Linked DNA regions of Homo sapiens: region 2 is linked to region 1. A link means that fine-mapping ties the variant in region 1 to the expression of a gene that starts in the linked region. Tissue or cell type: testis. Region 1 holds a variant in brackets; the other region holds the start of a gene. All regions are shown on one strand. Distances are from middle to middle.

Region 1 (7,987 bases):
AAACAGAATAAAAAGCAAAATAGACATAGTTCAAAGTTTCCTTTAATAGAATACCCAGAATACATAGGAAATCAACATGTGCTAGACATAGAATTAGTATGTTCACTGAAGCATGGCAAGGTCACATAAAATGCATATAGCTAGGGTCCCAAGCAGGGGTGTGTTACTGTTAGATTTTTTTGAAGTTTAATTTTGTTCAGCAGAGGAATATACTCTAGGAGCATTTACAGTTCATTTTCAGTCATCAAATAACATACATCACTTCCAAAACGTAGCCTCTTGTGTGCAGAGAAATTGCCTTCCCACAGCATTCACAATGTAAAAAGACCTTTTGGATTAAAGGGTCAGACTCTTTCTATGTAACAAAAAGTGGAATGCAAGTGACAGATGGACTTATTATTGTGCAGAAAAAACGTCTGAATGTATGCTAAGAATTCTCCGCCCTCCCAGCTCTTTACATGCTGGAACCTAACTCAGATGCTGGGTCACCAGCACAGGAGGGCCTCTGATAAGGAAAACTGTTTAAAGAGTACCTGGTGGCTAAAAGTCAGGTCATTCATCATGCAAAATGTCACCACTTCTTAAACTGTTCTGTAAATTCATTTCATTGGTCAACTTTTAACGTGCATATGACCTTTAACAGTTCTGAAAAATAGCCTTGGCCAGTAACACGTACTTCTAGTTCACATATGACATCATGAATGTTCTCTGCCTAAAGCACAGAGTCCATTCAGGGTTATACAAAGAAGCAGTGGGAAGACTTTAGAGTCCTTCAGAATGACAGCTTTCACAGATGACTTCAGTCTCTCCAGACTAATGTCAGCTGAGGCAAACAAGCGCTGCACAATCCCAAACCTTTCTGTATCTTTCAGGGGAGTCAAGGTTGGGTCTTCAAGATCAGATACTCCATCATCAGACAGAGCACGAAGCTGAAATGACACATTTAAACAAATTCACTTTTAAAATGTCCTAAAAAATCCACATTGGATAGTAATGCACTTGTAGGTAATTCTGGGGGAAAAAACTTTTTGAGATGGAGTCTTGCTCTGTCGTCCAGGCTGGAGTGCAGTGGCGTGATCTCGGCTCACTGCAACCTCCAGCTCCCAGGTTCAAGCGATTCTTTTGCCTCAGCCTCCCGAGTAGCTGGTACAGGTGTGCGCCACCATGCCCAGCTAATTTTTGTATTTTTAGTAGAGATGGGGTTTCACCGTGTTGGCCAGGCTGGTCTCAAATTCCTGACCTCAGGTGATCTGCCCACCTCGGCCTCCCAAAGTGCTGTGATTACAGACATGAGCCACCACGCCTGGCCAACTATGTCGTTTTTTAAATTTCCCCAAATAGAGCAGGAAAACCCTTGAGGTGTAACATGATATATTTGATCCAGGCCAGGACCTCAGGCCTGATTCTATCCAATTTGTCTAGTGTCCTCTGTCTGAATCCCTACTCTCCAAACTCTTTCTACTAGTCCCATTAACTCCAGTACATTAGAAAGGTTAGAATGTACTTTGGTCATATATGCAGTATGCTTAGTTTTTGTTTTACTGAAGATATTAGAACTTTCTTATATCTTTGCATGAACTCCTCAAAGGTAGGTACCATAGTTTAGTTTAATTATCCTTCCTGCCTCAAGAACCTTTTCCCTTGTTATTCCTTCTTCCAAATTTCCCTGTTGATCTCCCCTTCTCATCACTCAGTTGTCAGCTGAAATGCCACATTGAGGGCCTTTCCCAATCCCTTTCCATCTAGCTACCCCCAGCCCCAGAACTCAGCCTTATGTTACTCCATTATGTTGTATCCATAAACTTACTATATCTGAAGTAATCTGCTTGATAGTGTTTAGTCACCTTCCCTTATTTAACCCTAAGCTGCTCGTGAGAGCAGGGACCTTGTCTGCCGTGCCTACAACACAGACACTCAATGTGTTCTTCACCGAGGTCACTTTGGATGCTGCTCTAATTCCACTGCTCAACACATACTTGAAATATTTGATTTGCTTTTAGGGTCTTGATCTGTACCCGTAATATTTTACAAATCTTAAGCAATTACAAATTTACCAGTAGATTTCATTTTGAAACAGGCATTCAAGATCTGATTAATAATGTAAGTAGTAAAATTTTAAATTAAATTAAAAATGAAATAAGCCTAGAAAGTTTGCCTGAATTTTAAGAAATCTGAAGGGAATCCAAAAGAAAAAATTCCAGAAATTTCCTGAGCAGTGGTGACTATCTTGAAAGTCATGCAGCTTGTCCAGGTAGACTGAAGGGTAGCACTCACTGGAATGTAAAAGTACTTGTGGGTTTATTATCAAAATCAGCCTCACGAACCTTGTAGATTCGCCAAATACAACTCACACAATGTAACCACAGGCTTAACGTTACCATTAGGCTCAGACTGCAAACTATTGATTGTGCTTTAGAGAGTAGATTAGACCTGCTCTTTAAGCACAGCATCACACCCCAGTGAATTAAGGAGGAGCCCCACTGGCGCAGGCTGGAGACTGTCAACAGCATGGCAGGCTCCCTGTCCTTACCACCTGGTGGATGAGAGCTGTGCAGCATTCGGCTTTCTTTTCTAAATATCCACCACCCCCTTTGCCCACAGGCATTTCTAGGTATAAGGGGGAAACGGTGACCCAGAGGGTGGTGGAGTGAAGTTAACATTCTCTACTGATTCTAACTCACCCTTTCACCAGTTCTTGGAAATGTGTTAGTGTATCTGGCACTGTACTCCCAAAAGCCCTTCAGAAAGCCTCTCAAAGTTACCCTGGCTACTAGACAAGAAAAGACAGGGCTGCAGATGGATTTTGTGCCGTTTTAAGTAAATCCCTTAAAGAAACATGACGCTCAAATTCCTTCAGGAGGCAGACACCTCGATGTCTTAAATAGAGCTATTGCAAATCTGAGGGGAGGTATGTGAAGATACCCAGGAAGGTCTTTACAGAAAAAGGAGGTCTTTGACTATGTTGAGCAGTGCCAAAAGGCAGAATGTGCAGAAGCAGAATACCTTCCATTCTGAACTCCGAATGTGTTCTGGCTGCTGCTCTTAGAACACCAACAGAGCAGAACTTGGGGGTAATACAAATGTCCTAGAGCTGATCTGCAGGGAGGAGGACAGCTAAGTGTGAGTTTGTCACAGAAGGGGTTAGATAACAGTTAGATAACATGGGCTTGGCAGGATTTTCTTTTTATTTGCTTCAGTTGCAGTTGATGAATCTGTAAATACTTGGGAAGGACTAACTTAGTAAATGCTGAGCACTCAGTTGCTGCAAGAGGAGCTGAGATCTGAAAGCAGAGCTGTTGTTTTGCTCATCATTGCATACAATTAGAATAATGGCACGTATTGTTTCCATAACCAGACTGTGCCACCAGCCTTTACCCTCAGCTGGCCCAGGACACACATGCTGGCACATTTTCAAGTAGTTCCATTTTTGCAGTCAGTGGACAAGCATGCATGTTCCTCTGGGCCTGTGGAATCTTTCAGTTGTGATACCTGATCTGCTCCTTGGAATGATGCCATGCTGCATAGTCTTCTAATGTCTTTGCTATGCACAAAGGCACCAACCACATTACTCGGTGTTCCCAGAGTAGATGTATACCAAATGTCAGGGTCCTGTCTAGGCAGTCTGCCCCAATACCTGCTTCCCAGATCTGACAGCAGAGCTCTGAGAGATGATCCTTTGGGCCAACATAGCAGGTTGGCCTTGGACTTTAGTAATTAGGCCTTAAAATAATCAGACCGTGTGTGCTCAGCTCCTCTGCCCCAGGCTGAGCAACATCTGCAAAAGCTACACAAGACTAGCTGCCCCATCAGGGTGGCTTCAGGGCAACCTGTTGGTGGTTCTTTCTACTAATGGCTCAATCTATAATTTAAAAAGGAAAAGCTTAATCTTGACTCTCTAGGGCTAAGCTCATCATTACCTAACTCATGCTCTTAGAATGACATTTCCAGAGGGGGCACCAAGCTAACGATATTCCTGAAAGTGGATGAAAGAAGCTATGTCTCCCTGGGACAGATCAGTCCTGGATACCTCCCTGGCAAATCTGCTGCAGAGCTCAATCAAACCAGTCTTAGCACAAAACTGCCATTGCAAATAATATGGTGTCAGGCCCCTTTATTGTAATGTAACACCAAACCTTGGCCAAAATTCTCTCCAAACAATGGGAAAAGTATAAGAGTTGGAGTCGAAAGACAAGGATGAAGTCCTGGACCTGCTAACAAGTTATTTGGACAAATCATTTTCCTCTGGGTCTCAGTCTTCCCATGGGGTGGGATGTGTATAAAAGTGGGGTTAATAACAATACTTACTTAATGTGTCTTGAAGAGCTGTTGTGGTAAGTCCTAGAGGTGTTTTACCGGCTGCTGGATGTCTACCCCCTCATCATTTCCCCATTCCTATCCATTCTAAGGTCCCACCTGGGAGGTTGCTTACCAAGTGGCACAGTGTGGGAATGATCTGGAGTTTGCAGCAAGTGCCCAGCAGAGCTGCTGCGCTATCTGGCATTTCTGCAGGAGAGAAAAATCACAGTCACAGTCCAAAAAAACAAGTCCATGGGAACAGAGCCAGCCCCTGGATGGCACCTAACTTATATTTTAGTACTTTCCCGCCAGCCAGGCAGGGGAGGTACTCAGCAGTTGCTGAGTTAGTGAATGAATGGTGCTAAATGGGCAGCAAAGACCTTGTAGAAAACAGATGTAGGAACCCAGCTGCCAGCTCTGCATTCCACAGAGGATACTCCTTGACATTCAATTTACCAAATGGAAAGAACTGCCCAGACTCTGGGGGAAGGAAAGGAAACAGCATGGAAAAGCAGACCCTGCCATCTGGTGACAGAAGAGTGATGTTTGAGACCCTCCACACATTCAGGCTGCAGCCTCAGGTACACCTCTCTCAGCCTCAGTTTCCTCATTTACCATAGTTGTTTTGTTTTTGCATATGTCAGAATACTGTGTAAACTATAAAGGGCTCTACCCCATCACCAATCATTTTGGGGAGGAAAATGCAGTGTAGCTTTATCAGTGCAGCGTGGCCTGAGGCCAGGAGCAGCAACAGCAGAAAGTTGGAGCAGAGCTGTGCCAGGCTAGGGGCTGCACCAGAAGGGCCCTTGCCAAGCCCCAGGGAAGGGAATGCCAGATCAGTGTTATTCAAAGTGGATATTAAACACCTCCCAGGGAAAACACAGATACAGTTCTTAAAAGGACCATAGTCCCTTGGGGGTACAAGCTTTGAGCTGAAAAGGCAAAAAAGAATGAGTCAC[G/C]TGCTGAATCAGGTAGCCGAGGGACTGGTTAGGAACTCAGTTGTTCCTGCCATGTGTTAGCAGCCTTATTTGTAAAGACAGTGTGTTGTTGAGGTGTGACCCAGAGAGTACATGGCTCGTTCTCAAGAGAGAGTGTAGGCTATTAAGGGGGTGGGGCAGCAGCCAGGGGGATGCTTCTTTCAGAGAACCTAATGTGGTATTCAAATGTGTATGCATTTGTCTGAAGAGAAGATCCACAGTTTCTCAAGTAGTCTCTTACCCCAAAGCAGGAAGGTGAAGACGGAAAGCCTATGTGGCCTAGCGTATCCAGCTGAGCCTCTGTCCCCAGCCATCTCATCTGCCATTACTGCCCTGCCTTCACTTTCCAGGGTGGCTCCTGGGACCCAGGTAACCATCATCCTCATCTCTTATTCTTGGAAATACCTGAGTCCCATATTACCCATTTAGCTGCTATCTTGAGTGTGGTACACTAGGTGCTAGGGGCACAGAAATGAAAGAACAGCATCTGCATTACCGAGCTTACCCACTAATTTTACTACTTGACTCTGATTTCCTGGAGGGCCAAGACTTGATATTTACCTAGCACTGCCTAAAACATAGTATAAGCTTGTTAAATGTTTCTTGAACTGAAATTATTTTGATTGCTCTTCCATGTACCAATTCTATTTTACAAATAGAGTCCAAGGAGTTGAGACCTTTGGAGTTGCTTAAGGTTACAAAATAGTGGAGGAAGCTTCCCAGGAGACAGGTCACATGTGGGACTGAAGTGCTGAAAACAGCTATTAGCCAGAAACTGGTGTGAGGACCTACGAAGACCCCATTTTCTATTCCAGCACTTTCCTCAGTTTTTAAGGAGAGAAGATTATATTAAGAGGAAAAAAAATGAACTCAGAAGGGCGGAGGATTAGCAAGAGCACAAATGGAAGGGCTGTATGCCAGCCTGGCCTCCACTGGGACTGACATATAAATGAGATCACAGTTCAGAAAAATAAAGGGCAGGATTGGTTGAAAAATTTAGACATTGCCAGCTGCACCTAAAGATTTCACTACCTCTGAGTTTCCAATTCAGAAACAGCAAGTCAGTCTCACATTATGTGTCAACTGCGTGGCCTGCTGCCTGCGTGCAAGCTTGCAGAGATTTTTTTTTTTTTCCAAGCTGGACTGCAATGGCGTCCATAGTTCACTGCATCCTTGAATTCCTGGGCTCAAGCAATCCTCCACAGCCCCTCAAGTAGCTGGGACTACAGAGGTACACACCACCATGCCTGGCTAATTTATTTTTTGTACAGATGAGGTCTTGCCATGTTCCCTAGGCTGGTCTTGAACTCCTGGGCTCAAGTGATCCTTCCACCTTACCCTCCCAAAACGCTAGGATTACAGATGGGGGCCACCACACCCAGCCAGTTGCAGAGAATTTGATGCTGTGTCTAGGCTCAAGTAGAAGGGGACTGTGGTGCTTTCATGATGCTGGCCCTGTGTTACCTACTTGGCATCACTGATCCAGGCTATTGATAGAAATGCTGCAATAAGTAATGGGGTATATGAAGAAAAGACCTCTCACAAGTCGGAGAACTCTGGCCTGTGTATTAGCTCCTGACAGAATGCCTGTTCTGAAAGACTCTAATACCCGGATGTTAACATTGGGAGAAAGTCTCTAGTGGAGTTCCGCAGGGCTCTGTCTTATGTCCTGTTTCAGTTTACCAGTCAAAACTATATTTATCCATGAGTTGGAACAAGACAGAGCATATATTTATCAGCACATAGAGTTGGGACAGGCATTCTCTCAGATTAATTCTTTAAAAACTGAAGATTACTGGGTCTGTTTCTGTGTGGTGCTAGGGAGGAACCCTGAATGTATCAGAAACTATGTGTCCTGACTAGTGTCACCATGAAGGGAAGCTGTGGGGACTGGTTTGCCACAACTGGCTTTTCTGAGAGGGAATAGGAAGCCCAGCTTCCTCGTGACAGGCACTGTGGCATGGCGAGTTCCGGATGGGAGGGGTACAGAGGTGGCAGAGATTGTTCCACAGTAACTGGATGGCTGCTCCCCTGGGAGGCCATTTCAGGACCAGTGCAGAAGCTGTGCATCTGGGCCCAGCCACAGCTCTGCCTCCCAGCCTAGTACATTGGATGGTTGAATGCTCTCCACAGCCCCCTTGCCCCAGACAGGAGCACGCAGGGTGGGGAATAACAAGTTTGCAAAGATCAGAAGGACTGAAATGCTGGAGGAGAGCAGTTGGCAAATGAAAGTTGCTGCCACTCAGCTCTGCTGGGACTCCGGAGTGAACCACAGCCTGTCAGGGAGATGCTTGCTTTTGTAGGCAAAGGGGCACCCACTGTGGCCTTCCCTGGGGGAGGAGGGAGAAGGGCCCTCCGGGAGAGTAGGGAGGCTTGTGCTGGATGGAAAGGCACAGACTCGAGACCGAAGGGGGGTTTCCCATCAGCCTCCCACCTCTTACCCTCCCTGTACCAGAAGGGAAGGACCTGTATGTACCATATCTTCCACAGTTACCACCTCTGTGTCCCCAGAAGCATAGATAGTAGGCAAAGCATTTTAAAGCAGCAGCAGCCATTTCTTTCATTTTCTTTTCTCCTTACCTGCGAGGGCACTGACCAAGAAGTAGGCTGTCATAAACAGCTGCTTGCTGCCTGCATCCTCGGGGCCCGGACACCCACCCTGTAAGCTGCACCCCACCAGCTGCAGGAAGGCCACAAGGTCCTGCTGCTGCCGG
Region 2 (7,987 bases), 130 kb before region 1:
AAGAGCCAAAAATTAAGAAGCACTGCTCTGAGTATAGGATAAATTGCAAGGAAGCAAGAGAGAGGCTAGAATTAGAAAGGTTAGCAAGGAGGCTGGAAATTGGAATCTGACCTAGCTTTGTGAGCAGAGATAAAAGGAGTGAAGCTAAATAAAGTATTCTGAAGGAAAACTTGGTTGGACTTTGTGATGCATGCCAGTTGCATTTTTAAATAAAGCTATCCTCCAGGAGTGTCACTGCTTTTACTATGATGGATTAGTTGAAAAACAAGTACACAGGATTTGCTTTTGCTAAAATTCGGGGCTATTAGCAAAATTCTCAATTTCTGTAGGAGCAAAGCAGGTCAGAAGAGAAAAGAAAATGTAATCACATTAAAAGTGTATGTTGTTTACATTTGAAGGAGGAAACAAAATTGAGTGATGGATGCTCCTGAATTAAGAATCAAAATTCAAATTTTAAATTGAATTACCGTTGGGAGATACTGGGCTGTGGTAAAATTATGATCCCTTTAGAGTAACCTTGAAGGAAATGAAAAGTCAGACTATTAAGGACACTGAAGAGAAAGATCCACCATCATTCTCAATCATATCATTCCCCTTTCTTGGAATGAAGAATTTGTAACCGGTATGGGAAATGGATGGTGGTGTCTCAGTATGATGACCTCTCAGAAAGCTGAGTTGGGAACCAATGATGGGAGTTCCAATGTTTAACTGAGAACACTTTAAATTTATCCTGGCATGTCCCACCTTTAAAGTTTAGAGGAAGGGCAGAATGTTATAAAATGGGAATATCATTTATAAAAGGAAATAGTGTTTCCTTTTATAACTGTATATGAGTATTTGATACAATACTCATCTGACACTGAGAGAGGAACTTCACCGGCAAGAGCTTTCTGAAGGGGAGCAATCAAAGACAGTTATTGGAGCAAAATCATTTTTCTGACTCTAAGAATGAAGCTGAGTCTTACGGCAGTGATAAGCCTCCATCTGATAGCTGCTGTCATTACTTAGAGCACAGACTTGGAACTGCAAATGAAAGATAATTGTTCCTGTATTCCTGCTCCCAAATGCTGGGTCTCTGGTAGATGCAGAGATAAAGCAGTTGGCCAGGAGTGGTGCCAGCTTTAAGTCAGGTAGGTCTGCATGTAATTTGAGGGGCAGAGCCTACCCCAAACCCTCCCTCCCTAAAACTTCCTCAGTTAACATCATTCTACTTGCAGGGAGCAGGGGTAGAGTAGGTTAGGACATTGTTTCCAGAAGACCCTTGAGGAAATAAAAGTGCACTATTAAGGATCACTAACATATCTGGAAATGACATTCATACCCTACCTCCCACCCCAACCCCAGAGAAGCTCAGGGCAAGTAACTAAGTGGCTGGGTCCAAGGGGATGTGTTAAGGTTAAGAGTCAGAAGGGAAAAGAGTTCACAAGCCTGGGTAGGGTACAGCAGGGAGGACCCATGGGTGTCCTGTGAGAAGCAAGTGGGCCTGGGGCAGCAAGAAGGACCTGAAAGGTCTTGCTGACACCCCGAGAAGACAAACCCCATCCTTCCGCTTTGTCTCTGCCTTGGGCTCCGAGCCCACTCCACTTCATTTCATCCAGCCATCCTGACTACAGGGGGCCCAAAGCTACTCTGTGCCCTGGGCACGTTTGAGTCTCCTTAAATGCTTCCAATTACCTTTGCCTGGGTTTGTGGTTCCAGGAAAGAAGGTTCTAAATTAACACTGTACAAGGCCCCCCTGCATGTTGGTTTGCAAAATTAATGATCCTAATGGAAAAGTAAATTAATCTTTGATGCTTGGTTGAGGATAAACACAAAAATCACTGTTTTGGACACTGGACCTTCTTAATACATCTCATCAATAGTATTTTCTCTCTCCCTTCCATGCCTGCCACATTCACAAAGAGAGGAGACAATACAACTTATAACTTCATCTCTGAATCCAAAGGGCCATGATGCACGCATTTATTCTGCAAACACTTATTAATGGTCTGGTTTGTGCAAGGTGCCCAAGAGAAGCCAGGAAAGGCTGCACAGAGGAGGCCACCTCATAACACTCCTCACACGTAAAGTTTGACTTGCACTTTCTACGTTCATGGTTTGAAAAGATTGCAGTAAGCATTTTGTAAAATGTAAATTACATTCTTCAATTTTAGGAAGAACACAATAGTTTTTCCAAAAGCCGCCTGTCACAGGTCTGAGGGTTCACAGAGCTCTTTTAAGGGGATCGGAAGTTCTCTGGCTGCCTTGCTATGTTTTTCTAGCCAGAAGTCTCTGCTGCAGTGCATTGCTCAGTTCCTTTCAACTGAAAAATTAAATCTGCACTTCTGTCAAAATGTGTCATCTACACATCCGGACACTCATCACAGTTCACCAAGCTCTACGCAGAGTCCAGGCTGAAAGGATGGCATGCCCTCCCCAACCCCACCCTTTTGAGGTCTGGGAAGCCCAGGTGCTGGGGAGGAGCTGAACAACTGTGTCCAGGGAGTGTCTGGCAAAGCCGACCCAGGGAGTTCCACGGGAGCCTCGGTGCTATGAAAAGAGCCAGTGTCCATGCATTTCCTCGGGTGTGAATCACACTGCCCGGTCGGGCCTTTGGGAAAAAATTAATGAAGGACACAGTCAGCGCCGTAGAACCTGCCAAATACACATCAGATCCAGTGGAGTCTGTGAAGGGGGAGGGGGAGATTTTTCCAGAGGCTTTTCTTCTCGTTCCATTTCTCTTTTGTGCCCCACGACTGGGTTCTTGAATGTAAAACTCTCAGAAAGGTCAGGGCGGAGCCTGTTTTATGCCCCGAGGAGTATCTTGCCCACCCGTAAATGCTGACAGACAGCTGCGACTTCGGCCCAGGAGACCCGGCGGGGACTGGGTCCGACCAGCCCTCTCTCGCGGGCGCAGGTCCGGGACCCCTGAAGCGAGCCGGCCGGGCGCAGAGCGCAGTCAGTCTGGGCGCTCAGAAGCTGGGAGGGGGCTCCACCTGGGCGCCCAGCCGCGGCGGGAGGGGCGGGGCCCGGCTTTCCGGAGGCGGTGGCACCTCCTCGCGCCCGAGCGCGCGCTCCCCGACGTCCGGCGCACGCGCGAGGCCGGCTGGGAGCGCGCCCAAGCGGCGGCGGCGGCGGCGGCTGGAGGAGGAGGAGGAGGAGGAGGAGGAGGAGGAGGGCGGCTGAGGCGCGGCTGGCTGCGCGCGCGGAGGCAGCGGCGGGGGCGACCGGAGCTGGGGCAGAGTGGGGAGCGAGGGAGGGGGAGGAGAGAGAGGGAGGCGGAGGGCAGTGAGAGACGCATTTCCAGTTCTCAACTACGAGCCACGAGTTTGCAGATGGGGCTGCTCGGCGGCGCCTGTGGCTGAGGGAGAGCAGCGGCGGCGGGGAGCGACCGGGAGCGGCGGCAGCGGCGGCGCGGAGGCGGCTGAGGTGCGAGCCGGTGAGTTAACTGGACCCCCACGCCGCTCGGGTAACGGTCGCGCCGCGCGCCGGGCCGGCCGGGGGCGCCCTGTTGCTCGGCGCGGCGCGCCACGCGGGGACCCTGGCCCGCCCCGCCCCCCTCGGCACCTGGGCTTCGGCGGGCGCGGGGAAGAGGGACCGGCAGGCGGCGGCGGCGGCGCCGCGGTCGGGGAGGCTGCTGGCCGCCCCCAGCCCGGCCCGCGCGGAAGGGGCGCTCGGCCGGGCTCCTGCCTCTCTGGCTGCGGGCGGCTGGGCGGGCCGGAGCTCGGCAACGTGTCTGGCCCATGCTGCTTGCCGCCGCTCCCCACGCGCTCCCCGGCGCGGCCCCGACTGGGGCTAGGGCCGCAGACGCGCGGGGCCCCTTCGGGCGCGGGGCTTGGGTGCCTACACCTCTGCGGCGGGAGTCGCGGTGGAGCCTGAATGGAGAGCCGGCCTGGGGGCGGCGTTGCTGTGACTGACACCTCCGGGGTCTGTCCCGAGAGGGGGTGATTCCGCCGGCTCCCGGTTCTCTCCCGAGCTCGGAGTTGGTAGGGGAGGAGGCTTTCTCCAACTACCGCCGCTACTTCCGAGGTACGAGACTCCAGTTGTTTGGCCAAAGTGGCTGTGGGCCGAGCACAGGCTGCCGCGGGGGCGTTCGCTGCTGAGATCGTGCTCGCGGATTCTCGGTACGTTTGTCTGAAACCAAATAGGTGCTGGGGCTTTTTTATTTTGGCTGGGTGGAGGGTCAGCAGGGGAGTCGATTGAGGTATCCGACCGTGTGGTGACAGGATGTGGATTGGTTGGTAGATGTTTTTTTGCAGAAGGACTTTTTAACACTTTACTGGGAGTTTATTCTCAATCCTACCAGTTTCTGGGATTGCAGCTCGAGATTACATTTGTTAAACTTCCATCAGTTGGGTGTGCATCTGTGTAGGGGGTGGGGGTGAAGCGAGGGAGAGAATTGAAGACTGCCGGGGAAGCTCAGAAAATTCTCCGCATTACTTATAAACAGCCGGGTAAGGTCAGGCTAGCCACGTTTTATTCTTTCCTACGCCTTTGGAGAGTGTTGGAATTTTACTTTGTGCTTCAAGTATATTACAAGTGGTCTTGTAGTGTAGCTGAGAACGTTTGGGGTGCGTTAAAATGCGTTTCAATTGGAGTATGATTTAGCAGCCATTTCTTCCCGTGAAATTTTGCAAATCATTTGTAAACTTATGTTGGTCGAATATACCAGGCGAAGTAACATTTTTAGTAATGCGGTATATAGTTTCCGTATATAGGTATAGCAACGGACCTCAAGTAATATTGCTTATTGTAGGCATCTACTGTGCAATGATAGGGTAGTGGGTAGTAGGCCTGATTATAGTTATGTCTTCTGAGGCCTTGTTAACAGTAAACAAAGAACTTTTGTGGGTTGTGTCATTTTGAGGTCATTTGTACCTTAAATCTATCATATATTTAAATAGGTGTTTAAATGCGTGTTTGCACGATGTGTTACTCTTTAAGGTCCATGTTTCCTTCATTCTGGACTACGGTTACATAATACACAAATGGTAACACTTTTAATTGCTCAATTTTGTCCTATGGAGACTGCACACCATCTTTATGAAAGAGGTGTGTATGTGTCCTTACTGATGCCACCGAATTCTTGACATCTGGAATGTCAAAATGAATTATTTTGCATTCTAGGTTAAATCAACACTGGAAAAATTAAGGTGTTTAAGCAAGTCTAGTAGCTCTATATAAGACAGAATCTTTTTTTTTCTTTAGGCCAACTGTTGGATTTTTAAAAATGAATCATATTTTTAAACATTTGAGGGAGCAGTTTGCTTCTGAGTCTCATTTTAGGCTGAAATTGTTCCAGAGCACTACATAGCCTGCTTCTCTCTTTCTCTCCCCACTCCCCCTCTTTTTAGCTTGAGATAACCAAGAAGACATAACTGTGACTCTATGTGTTATCTTTTTAAAAAGTTGTTTTAAAATTGAAGTTGCTTGTTTGAATATTTACTATCCCTTTACATGCTTTACTACTTAATAATGGATTAGCAGAATAAAACAGATATTTTAATTAAATGTCTTTCATATTTTTGACATCTGAGCTTTGTAAAAATGGAGTAGCATCATATTATTGCTGAGAGAGTTACAAATAATACAGGATTAGTGCTAGTCAAAGGCTAATTGTAAAAAAACAGCCAGAAAATAAAATTAAAAGAGGTAAGAGGACGCATTTATACTTTTGACATCACTCTAATATAAATTACCTATTGCTAGGTGACTTTTGAAAAAGAGTATCTTGTAAAATTCACATTAGGTATATAATAGTTAATAATTTTTCCTTCCAGAGTGATTCACTTGATGAGTGACTAGATTTTTTTTTTTTAAATCAGAACTCTACTTCAGGTAAGTATAGTTAACCATGTAAGTGATGTGCTGATGTTTATTTCAGGAAGAATGAACACTTACCCATTTGATAAATACTGAACTGTTTGGGAATATGTCAGTTATTCCTTAAAACTTAGGCGGAGAAAAATTATGCTAGTTTTGTTTTAACTGTAGGTTCTTTAGAAAAGTAGTCTTCACATTTATAAATATAAGAGCAGATAAGCACAAGAGATCTCTTTCCTGATATGGTGCTAGTATTGAATTAAAGATTTTATTTTTTTGTTGTAGGGACCAGTTTTGTTTAGTCTTCCTGTTCAGTCTCACAGAAGCTGCAATGATTTTCCTCCTTTTCTGTTACTTGTATCTGACCACTGGGGGGAGACTTTACAATTGGGCTTGACCATATTCCTTCTTTACATACATTGGCTGCTAATCCTGGGCACTTTGTCAAACTGCTGGGTAGTGTGCTGAGGAGGATGCACTCTGAAGCAAGTCTCAATCAAGGTGTTTAATGACTTTTCTTTCTTTAACTCACAGCATGCTTACAAAGTATCATTCTTTATAGACTGTGTTATTAACAGTCTACTGTTAAGTGGTCTAAGTATGCCTCTAACATAATGAAAGATAAGATTCCTGAATACATTATAGCTTTCAAAGATCCGACTTTACTTGCATTAATCTTAGAAGCAGTGTAGGTTTAATTGCTTGCTTAGAGTACACAGATATTAGTTGTCTGGAAGGATCTGGAAAGATCATCACTCTTCTGTGAAGTGTATCTATATCCAAACCCTTTAAACAAATTGGTCTCCTCTTATAAAAAGCTTTTGGAGGAGAAGATATTGAAGCATCCCATGTAGCTAATTTTAGTGTTCATTTCACCGCAGAGGGGAAGTTCTTCCTTTATCATAGTCATATAGATAAGATTAAAGCCCACAACTTTGTTAACCATTAAGCTGTGACCATTATTACCAGGTGTAATAAAGTCAAAAGCCTGGTTTCTACTTTTTCTTTTCTGACAGTATTTAACCTTGTTAATGTCCAATTCAATAATAATGAACTCAGTAAACAGAGGCTGCTACGTTTATAGTAGTTTAGAAAGAACTTAAGTTTTATGACCTTCCTTAATTATGATAGACTAATTCAAAGACCTTTCTATAATCTTTATCATAGTAAGTATATTCACAGAGTAATGAACAGAACAAAATTAGTTTCTATTTTTCCTTCATCCTAGGTTATTTTCCTTCTTTCCTTTAAGATGACTTTGCTTTCATCCGAAAATTCTTTTTTCCTTTTTTCCTTTTTTTTTTTTTTTAATATAGTGTACTAGAAGAGATACTTTCTGCTTAGGAATATATTCATCTCTGGCTAACTTTAGGATTGTGTTAAGTACTTGGGAATGGAAGTTTCTAAAAGCCTATCTGTCAGAGTTATCACTGATACAAGGCAAAATGAGAATTAAAGACAATATAATGAATATTTCATAAAGCTCAAGTTATTTTCAGATCCTTTCTACTGCTTGCTAGTTTTGTACATGATTTAATCCCTCCTTCACCAATTTACATCTTTTCCTCTTAAATCTATCATTTCTTTACCCTCTTCCTCCACTTTTTGCTATATTTCATCTACATTGCCCTTCATTTTGTTCCTCATCAATGCCATGGCTTGCTCCTAACTTAGGGCTTTTGCACTATGTTCACTCTGTTGGGAACTCTTCCTAAATCATTACATGAGTGACTACTTTTCATCATTTCATGTTGTAGTTCAAATATCATCTTTTCAGACAAGCATTGCTACCTAACCATCCTTCCAGAATGACACTAGCCTCATCCCCCTCAATCCCATTACCTTTTTTACTTAAAAATTTCTTCAAACCATTTATCAGTATCTGAAATTATGTTTTTATATTATTTTATAATCTCCATACTCACTAGAATATAAGCCCCGTGATATCAATGATCTTGTCTCTTTTTGTTTTTGTTTTTGAGATAGAATCTCACTCGGTCACCCCAGGCTGGAGTGCAGTGGTGTGTGTGATCACGGCTCACTGCAGCCTGGAACTCCTAGGCTCAAGTGATCCTCCCACCTCAGCCTCCTGGTAGCTAGGACTATAGGCAACAACTACCATGCCGAGCTAATTAAAAAAAAAAAATTCTGTAGAAATGGAGTCTTGCTGTGTGTGTTGCCCAGG

Evidence for each region. PIP is the estimated chance that this variant, and not a neighbour inherited with it, causes the effect.
Region 2: PALS2 starts here. The variant in region 1 is fine-mapped to the expression of PALS2 in testis (GTEx, PIP above 0.99).

What each region holds. Positions count from the first base shown.
Region 1 is chr7:24,698,331-24,706,317 of GRCh38, forward strand. GSDME (gasdermin E) reads right to left here. Exons shown (of 10, transcript NM_001127453.2): 8 at 7,854-7,987; 9 at 4,430-4,503; 10 at 25-929. The coding sequence ends at 696. Among named protein-coding and RNA genes, the nearest start is that of GSDME, 55 kb to the right of the region's middle. RefSeq lists silencers at 3,460-3,754, 6,589-6,758. The variant G/C (reference allele first, on the strand shown) is at 5,256.
Region 2 is chr7:24,570,176-24,578,162 of GRCh38, forward strand. PALS2 (protein associated with LIN7 2, MAGUK p55 family member) reads left to right here and starts at 3,277. Exons shown (of 12, transcript NM_001303037.2): 1 at 3,277-3,418. RefSeq lists enhancers at 2,426-2,495, 2,516-2,615, 3,481-3,980, 3,926-3,975, 4,026-4,145 and 1 more and a silencer at 2,756-3,825.